Homo sapiens: one gene and its partner. The protein of the gene in region 1 interacts with the protein of each later gene in a biochemical or structural test. Each region holds a gene or a part of one and is shown on either strand. Other genes may lie near its edges.

Region 1 (3,826 bases):
TTCCCAATGCACAGAGGAGGAAGAAGCTCAATGCGCGCAGGTTGAAAAGCTTCATCTCTGAAGTACACCCATAAAAACCCATGTGTCTAGTTTTGATCTATTTGGAAGATTATGAAACATATTTCCAGAATTATTATTGCTTACTCTTCTTTTTTTGCAATTTCCCATGGCAAATTTTTACTTCTATATCCAGAAATATATTTTCTAAACTTTTTTTGTACATTGTTCTACACTGAAATGACAGGATTTCAATTCTGTAAAGACTTTCTGAAAGTCATTTCACAGCAAAAAATCTTGGTTCCATAAACCACGTTAAGTGATCCTAACACTACTTTACAAAGGCCCTGTGTTTAAACTGTGTAGAATGTTTTCTTTCCTCCAACGTCATGTTCTGCCTTCTCTGCATATGACTTGACAAGGTGATTCGCTTGACTTGAGCGAAATGCTAATAAAGCCCAGAACAAGATTCTGACCTCCCAAATCAGCAGTTTAGCGCCACTCAGTTTCTTGGCACAAGACTATGGCTCTAGCTTTGATCCCATTCATGAATTCACTCTGCCTTTACTAAGCCCCTACTCGGCCTCTGCTGAGTCAGCTTGGCTCAGCCCTGTGTGGCAATACACAGATTGATGAATAACTGATGGTCACCTAATCCAGTAGGAGAGACAGATGTATGAACAGATAAACTGTAGTATCAACCCTTCAGTAATATAATGGTACACAAGGTGGGAACTGACAGGAGAGAGAGAACCTGACAATTGTCCCCTTTTAGTTACAGATAGGATTCGGGTGGTGTGCAGATGGAATCATTCTTACTAAAAACCACTCAGATTAGACAACCTATCAGGGGATCAGTACTATCATGTCCCCAAAAGGAAGAAGCAATTTTTAAAAGTCTACTGTCATGTACTATGTTTCTGAATAAGTTGTAAAAAATAAAAAACTTAAAATATTTGAAGCACCAGTTACTTTTAAATAATAAATGAAGTTGTATATTAGGTGAACTCAGTGTCTTAGTAGCATGTCTTCTACCCAAGCATAATGAACTATTATAACTGCCAGAATCAGTAACTGATTAACCCTACTAAATGTGAGATTCAAATAGTTGTGCTTCCCACTATCACACCCATACCCCAAAACACGAGAGACTAGCAACCACGGTAAAAGTACTTGGCAATTACCTGCTTGAAAATTATTCCTTTTTCAACTACCAATCCATATTAGTAAGCTATTAATCAATACTAATATTAAAGAAACAAAATTCAATCCTAGACATTACAAACTATAAAAGTTCTATTAGGCCATATGGTCTTTTATCTCTTCCCTTCATATTCTAGGCAAAGATTACTCTAAAATTTTTAAGAGTATCTGTTTTTCTGTTTGCACATCCAAAAATATATGCCATCTTTTTATAGGATTACCATCTGTCTCGTGCCTAAGTAAATGTTCTGAATTAGTTTTACTGCTTTTCTAATTGTAAAATTTTAAGTTTATACATATACTTGAAAATGTATATAAAGTTTCAAGGGAAAAAGCTTTAGACATAAACTTTATCCATATGGGTAAAGGATAACTTCTTCAAATAATTTCAACCTTTTCTTAAATGACTTGAGGTAGTCATGTCTGTCAGTCATCATAACACATAATGAAAAAATTAAAAAGATCAAACAACTACTTAACCTTCAATAAACAAAACAGCTTTATTATCCCCATTTTATAAAATGAGGAAACTGGTTATCAGAGAGACTGGAATTTGCCCAACAAAGTTAAACAATTTGCTACTAGCAACAGCAGATCCAGAATCTGAACCTGGCTGTTTATTTGCAAAGCTCACATTCTTCCCCTATGCCAACCTGTCCTACCTGTCATTCTACTGCTTACATCAGTGGTTCTCAAACATTCTGGTCTCAGAACCCCTTTATTCTCTTAAAAATTATTGGAAGACAGGAAGAAGCATTGTTTATGTGGGTTGCATCTCTTGAAATGTACCCTACTAGAAAATAAAACCGAGAGGCGGGGCATGATGGCTCACTTCTGTAATCCCAGCACTTTGGGAGGCCGAGGCGGATCACCTGAGGTCAGGAGTTGGAGACCAGCCTGGCCAACGTGGTGAAACCCCATCTCTACTAAAAATACAAAAAAAAAAAAAAAAAAATAGCCAGGCATGGTGGCGTGTGCCTGTAATCCCAGCTACTCAGGAGGCTGAGGCAGAAGAATTGCTTGAGACTGGGAGGCAGAGGTTGCAGTGAGCCAAGATTGCGCCACTGCACTCCAGCCTGGGCAACAAGAGCGAAAACTCTGTCAAAAAAAAAAAAAAAAAAAAAAAAAACTGAGAAAATTTGTTATTTATTTATTTATTGAAGACACAGAATCAGAGTCTCGCTGTGTTGGCCAGGCTAGAGTGCAGTGGTATGATCTCGGCTCACTGCAGCCTCAACCTCCTGGGTTCAAGAGATCCTCCCACCTCAGCCTCCTGAGCAGTTGGTACTATAGGCACGCACCACCACGCCTGGCTAATTTTGTCTACTTTTTGTAGAGATGAGGTCTATGTTGCCCGGGCTGGTCTTGAACTCCTGGCCTCAAGCAATCCTCCTACCTCAGCTTCCCAAAGTGCTGGGATTACAGGTATGAGCCACTATGCCCAGCCTAATTTTATATTTATTTTAAAATGACAATATACTCATTACATGTTAACATAAATAACATTTTCATGAATGATAATAAAAATCAGTGAAAGTGGTACCACATGACATTACTGTAAATCTCTTCTGCCTGACTAAAGGAAGACAGCTAGACTCTCATATCTACTTCTGCACTGAATCTGTTACAGTACAGTAGCCCTCTCTTATCTGCAAGGGATACATCCCAGGATCCCCTGTGGATTCCTGAAACCACATATAGTACAGAACCCTATATCAAGTATACTTTGCTTTTTTCCTATACACACATACCTATGATAAAGTTTAATTTTTAAGTTAGGTACAGTAAGAGATTAATAACTATAACTAATAATAAAATTAAACAATTATAGCAAAATATTGTAATAAAAGCTATGAGAATGTGGACTCTCTCTCTCGCAAAATATCTTACTGTACTGCACTTAGCTGTCTTCAGATGACTATCGACTGTGGTAATTGAAACTGTGCATAGGGGACTACCTGTAAGAAGAAAATTCAGCCTCCTCCAGATACATAGTTGGAAAAAGGAACAATATATTTTATTTAATAACCTTTTCATATAACTATGGATATTTTTCTTTGATACTATATCAAAACTCAATGAATAATAGTTTCTTAATGATAAATTGCCCTGTAAAATCTAAAACCATAACACAAAATTTTTTTACTCTATAACATTCAAACCCATTGGTCATGCCTATAATCCCAGCACTCTGGGAAGCTGAGGTGGGTGGAACACTTGAGGCCAGGAGTTCGAGACCAGCCTGGCCAACATGGTGAAACCCCGTCTCTACTAAAAATATCAACATTAGCCAGGCATTATGGCTCACACCTATAATCCCAGCTACTCTGGAGGCTGAAGGAGAATCACTTGAGCCCAGGAAGCAGAGACTGCAGTGAGCTGAGATCACACCACTGCACTCCAGCCTGGGCAACAAGCAAGACTCCATCTCAAAAAAAAAAAGAAACTTTGAATTTTATCACTGGCAATAATACTGTCATTTGTTTTTAATGAAGTGACAGACTCATGTTGATTATTTATGGGAAAATATCTGTTAAAACACATGGAATAATCATGTGTGTCTGTCGATCGTTGTTTTTAGTAAAAGTGGTTATTTCACAGAAAAAAAGGAGCTAGTTAGCTAGTG
Region 2 (3,717 bases), on another chromosome or scaffold:
CTGCTGGGGGTTTTCCACACCACTGCTCCCCTTCATTAGTGGGGATAATTGAGAGTTGACTGCAGTCGTTACTGCTGTTGTGATGGGTATTTGAAGCTAAATTCGGGCAAGTAGGAGATGTGTGAATATTTATCTCAGCTGCAGAAACTTAATGCAGTGTGGCATTAATTACCCTGTCTGAGCCTGCTGTCTTCTTCTGTTTTTAGGTGTCATTTTCAGTTGGATAAATTAGTTTCCAAAATTAGAATAGAGCAAATTGTAGGGTGAGATCAAGGCAGCCTGACTTCTTGGGGCATCCAAAAAGAAGAATGAGCTGAGAACATCTATCCAGGAAACATTAATATGCGTGCTTGAAGCCCAGCACAGGCAAAAGGAAATATTTTTCCCCAGTAGTTGTACTTAACTATTTTTGACTCCACCTACTGCACTTGTAGAACACAAACACACAATAAAGTTACATGTTTAGCCTTACAACATGTATTTGAAATAGTTCAAGAGACTGGAAAGGAATAGATTTGGTGTTTAATAAATCATAATCTTACTATAGATTTTGCTACATTTGATTTTGAGAGAATAAAGCCAAATTGGAGTGTATTTAGGACAAAGGGATCAGAACTGTGAGGAAACTAGAAACAGCATTATAATCATTCAGTAATTCAACAGACTCTCATTGAGGACCTACTGTGCTAGGTTCATATTTGTAAAATGGCAGAAGGAGGCCTGGCGCGGTGGCTCACACCTGTAATCTCAGCACTTTGGGAGGCCGAGGTGGGCGGATCACAAGGTCAGGAAATTGAGACCATCCTGGCTGACACAGTGAAACCCTGTCTGTACTAAAAAATATAAAAAATTAGCCGGGCGTGGTGGTGGGCACCTGTAGTCCCAGCTACACGGGAGGCTGAGGCAGGAGAATGGTGTGAACCTGGGAGGCCAAGCTTGCAGTGAGCCGACATCGCGCCACTGCACTCTAGCCTGGGCGACAGAGTGAGACTCCATCTCAAAAAAAAAAAAAAAAAAAAAGGCAGAAGGAACTGGCAAGTGGTAACCTAGAAGTAGGACATGGAAGAATGGGCTTCCGTACTTTTCTGTCATCAGACATTTGGACGAAGGATTGTACTTATTTACATTTCCAAGGGCAGTAGAAAGTCTACGGGCAGAAGGCATGGAGGGACAAGTTGGCACTTTGTTACACTGCATAATAGGGTGCCTCCAAGGAAAGAAGTTCCTTCCCACTGGAAGAATACAAACATAACAAGTTCTAGAGGAACCAGAAATTGGATCTGATGGCAGGAGTCTTGGGGTCTACTCTTGGCATGGATACTAAGTAACCCTGTGACTCTGAAGAAACAAAAGCTGTCTTCACAGGACTTCAGATTCCTCATCTGTACAATGATGGGCCAGTACAACCTTATCTTCTAGGCCATTCCACTTTACAGTAGAAAGCAAGCAATATGATATGCTACACACAAGAGACAGCACAATGACCTTGAGATCACACAACCTTTCAGAACTTCAGTTTTTATCTGCAAAGGGAGGACTCAAAAAATAAAAGCCACCCTCAGGACTATAAGGCAGATAAATAAGACATGAGGTGCTTTGTAAACTCTGAAGCACCAATGGATGGAAAGATTGGGGTCTCTCTCTCTCTGTCTCTCCCTCCTCATGGTCACTGTTGTAAAAGATTAGAAAAAGCACTGGCCCCTGGACCCTGTTTTCAGTTCTCATGTCTCTAGACTTACTAGCTGTGTGACCATGGGCAAATTATCTAACTTCTCTGTGCTTAATTTCACCCTTGCAAAAGAGATAAAGCATCTGCCTTACAAGGCTGTTGTGATGAGATAAAAAGACAATGTACTTGAAAATACCTAGCATGGTGCCAGACACATGGTAGGGGCTCCCAGAATGCCAATTCATTTTGAAGTTTCAAGAAAAAAGCAAATAATAAGAACCTATATGACAAGGCAGGGGACAAGCTAATATATCAAATATGGTAAAATTAGGATTTCATTGTGCCCGTTTAATTCTGGCACAGACCTCCAAGAGTGACAGCATAAAGGTCAATTTTAACAGAAGGTCCTGTGCATGCTTAAAACCACAGTATCCATCAAATCTGCTTGGCCAAGGCACAATGAGCCATCTCAACATCAGCTGAAGTCTGACGGGGTTTAAATAGGGCCGAACGCTGTTTCCTATCTAGGTGTGGATTGCAGGTTTGCTGCATTACATGCTGGTTGAAAATCCCTGTATGTGTTTCAGGACAGCCCCCTGGGTGCAGGCAAATGACTGGCCAAAGTGGAGGGCTCAGACTGAATGGAAACAAGTCCAGAAGTTTGTGATTAAGAGACAAAGACACACTTGCTGTTTCTCTGGCTCAACAGTGCACCCAGGCATCACTATTTGTAGAAGAGCAATTTGAAATAGAATTTCAGGGTTCTCAAGTGGACATTTATGAAACTGTGTTGGAAAAATGTCCACTTGTCTCATGGTAATTGTTAGCAATTTCTGAAGATGTATTGCTAGCAAGCATTGTGCTAGATACTTTATATGTGTAATCTCTAATTCCCTCAAGAACCCCGTAGGATAAACAGTACTATTCCCATTTTGTGGTTGGAGAAACCAAGACTCAGGATAAGTATCTTGTCCACATGACACAGCTTTTCTAACTCTCCCTACTATACCATGCTACTTCCCTAACAGGGCAATCAGTTCCAACTTGAAAACGAAAGACAGAACTGAGTGCATAGCTATTTTGGATAATAAAAATGTTGCCAAAATGTTATGCACCCTGATCAAATACTCCAAAAATAACCTAAGGTCATCCATCATAAACTGTCACTTTTCTGTTTTAATCCTAAACCCCTTTTCCCAAAGCTGTCTCAGAAAATCCATGCAAGTGTAAAGAGCAGGCCTCACTTTGTTCCTTTATCCACAGGAGCCAGAGCCTCTGTACGCGCAGATCAACAGACCTAAGAAATAGCATCGATGCGAGCTCGTGGTGGGTGCTCAAGACTGGCATGGACATCAGCATCACGACAGGCTCTCTTGTATTCTTTCACCTCTTCCCACAAGAAATTCATGATTGCCCAATGGAACTCGCTCAGAAGAGGGAACTAAGCATTTTTGGCAACCAATGGCAGATATCTATGGCAGCACACAAAAAAAGTATAGAAAGATCCACCCAACATTAAATCAGAAATCAAGCAAATGCTTACCCAACAAATATTTGAGCCCTCATAGCTGGGTTTAAGATGACTCAGTGTGCAAAATTATTAATTCCCTTTTTATTTCTCTACCTGTTGACCACTGTTGAGACACCAAATTTGGAGTGACAGGCATCAGAGGATTACAACAGGGTTGGAACTGACTTCTTTAAGCAAAAGCAAAGGGTCTTCTGTGACCACAATATCGTCATCCATATGCCTTTTCACATAGGATGATGTGTTTTTTGTCACTCCATGGGGCCTGGTCTGCCATTTTCCCCCCTTTCCTTTTTTTGTCATGTTTGAAAATTAATAGGTGTACAAATTTTTGTATTGCTTTTGACTTTTTTTAGATATGGGTGAAGAAATCTAACTGGGGAGAAAAAAAGCCTCAGTGAAATGAATTAACTTGAAATTACAAGACAAATAAGTGGTTGATTATTCATTATGATCACGAATGTTGCCAAAACAGTCCTTTAGCTATTCTGCATCCTGGTGAAGAAAGACAGCTTTCAGT

Evidence for each region.
Region 2: the proteins of SOCS6 (region 1) and DAB1 form a complex in vitro, tested with the Homo sapiens proteins (one study listed by BioGRID).

The regions. Positions count from the first base shown.
Region 1 is NC_000018.10:70,319,816-70,323,641, reverse strand, and holds part of SOCS6 (suppressor of cytokine signaling 6), read right to left. Parts: intron 2,040-3,826; exon of another isoform or gene 1-2,039. UniProt on the Homo sapiens protein: SOCS family proteins form part of a classical negative feedback system that regulates cytokine signal transduction.
Region 2 is NC_000001.11:56,997,344-57,001,060, reverse strand, and holds part of DAB1 (disabled homolog 1), read left to right. Parts: intron 1-2,913; exon of another isoform or gene 2,914-2,932; 3' UTR 2,933-3,717. UniProt on the Homo sapiens protein: Signaling adapter of the reelin-mediated signaling pathway, which regulates the migration and differentiation of postmitotic neurons during brain development.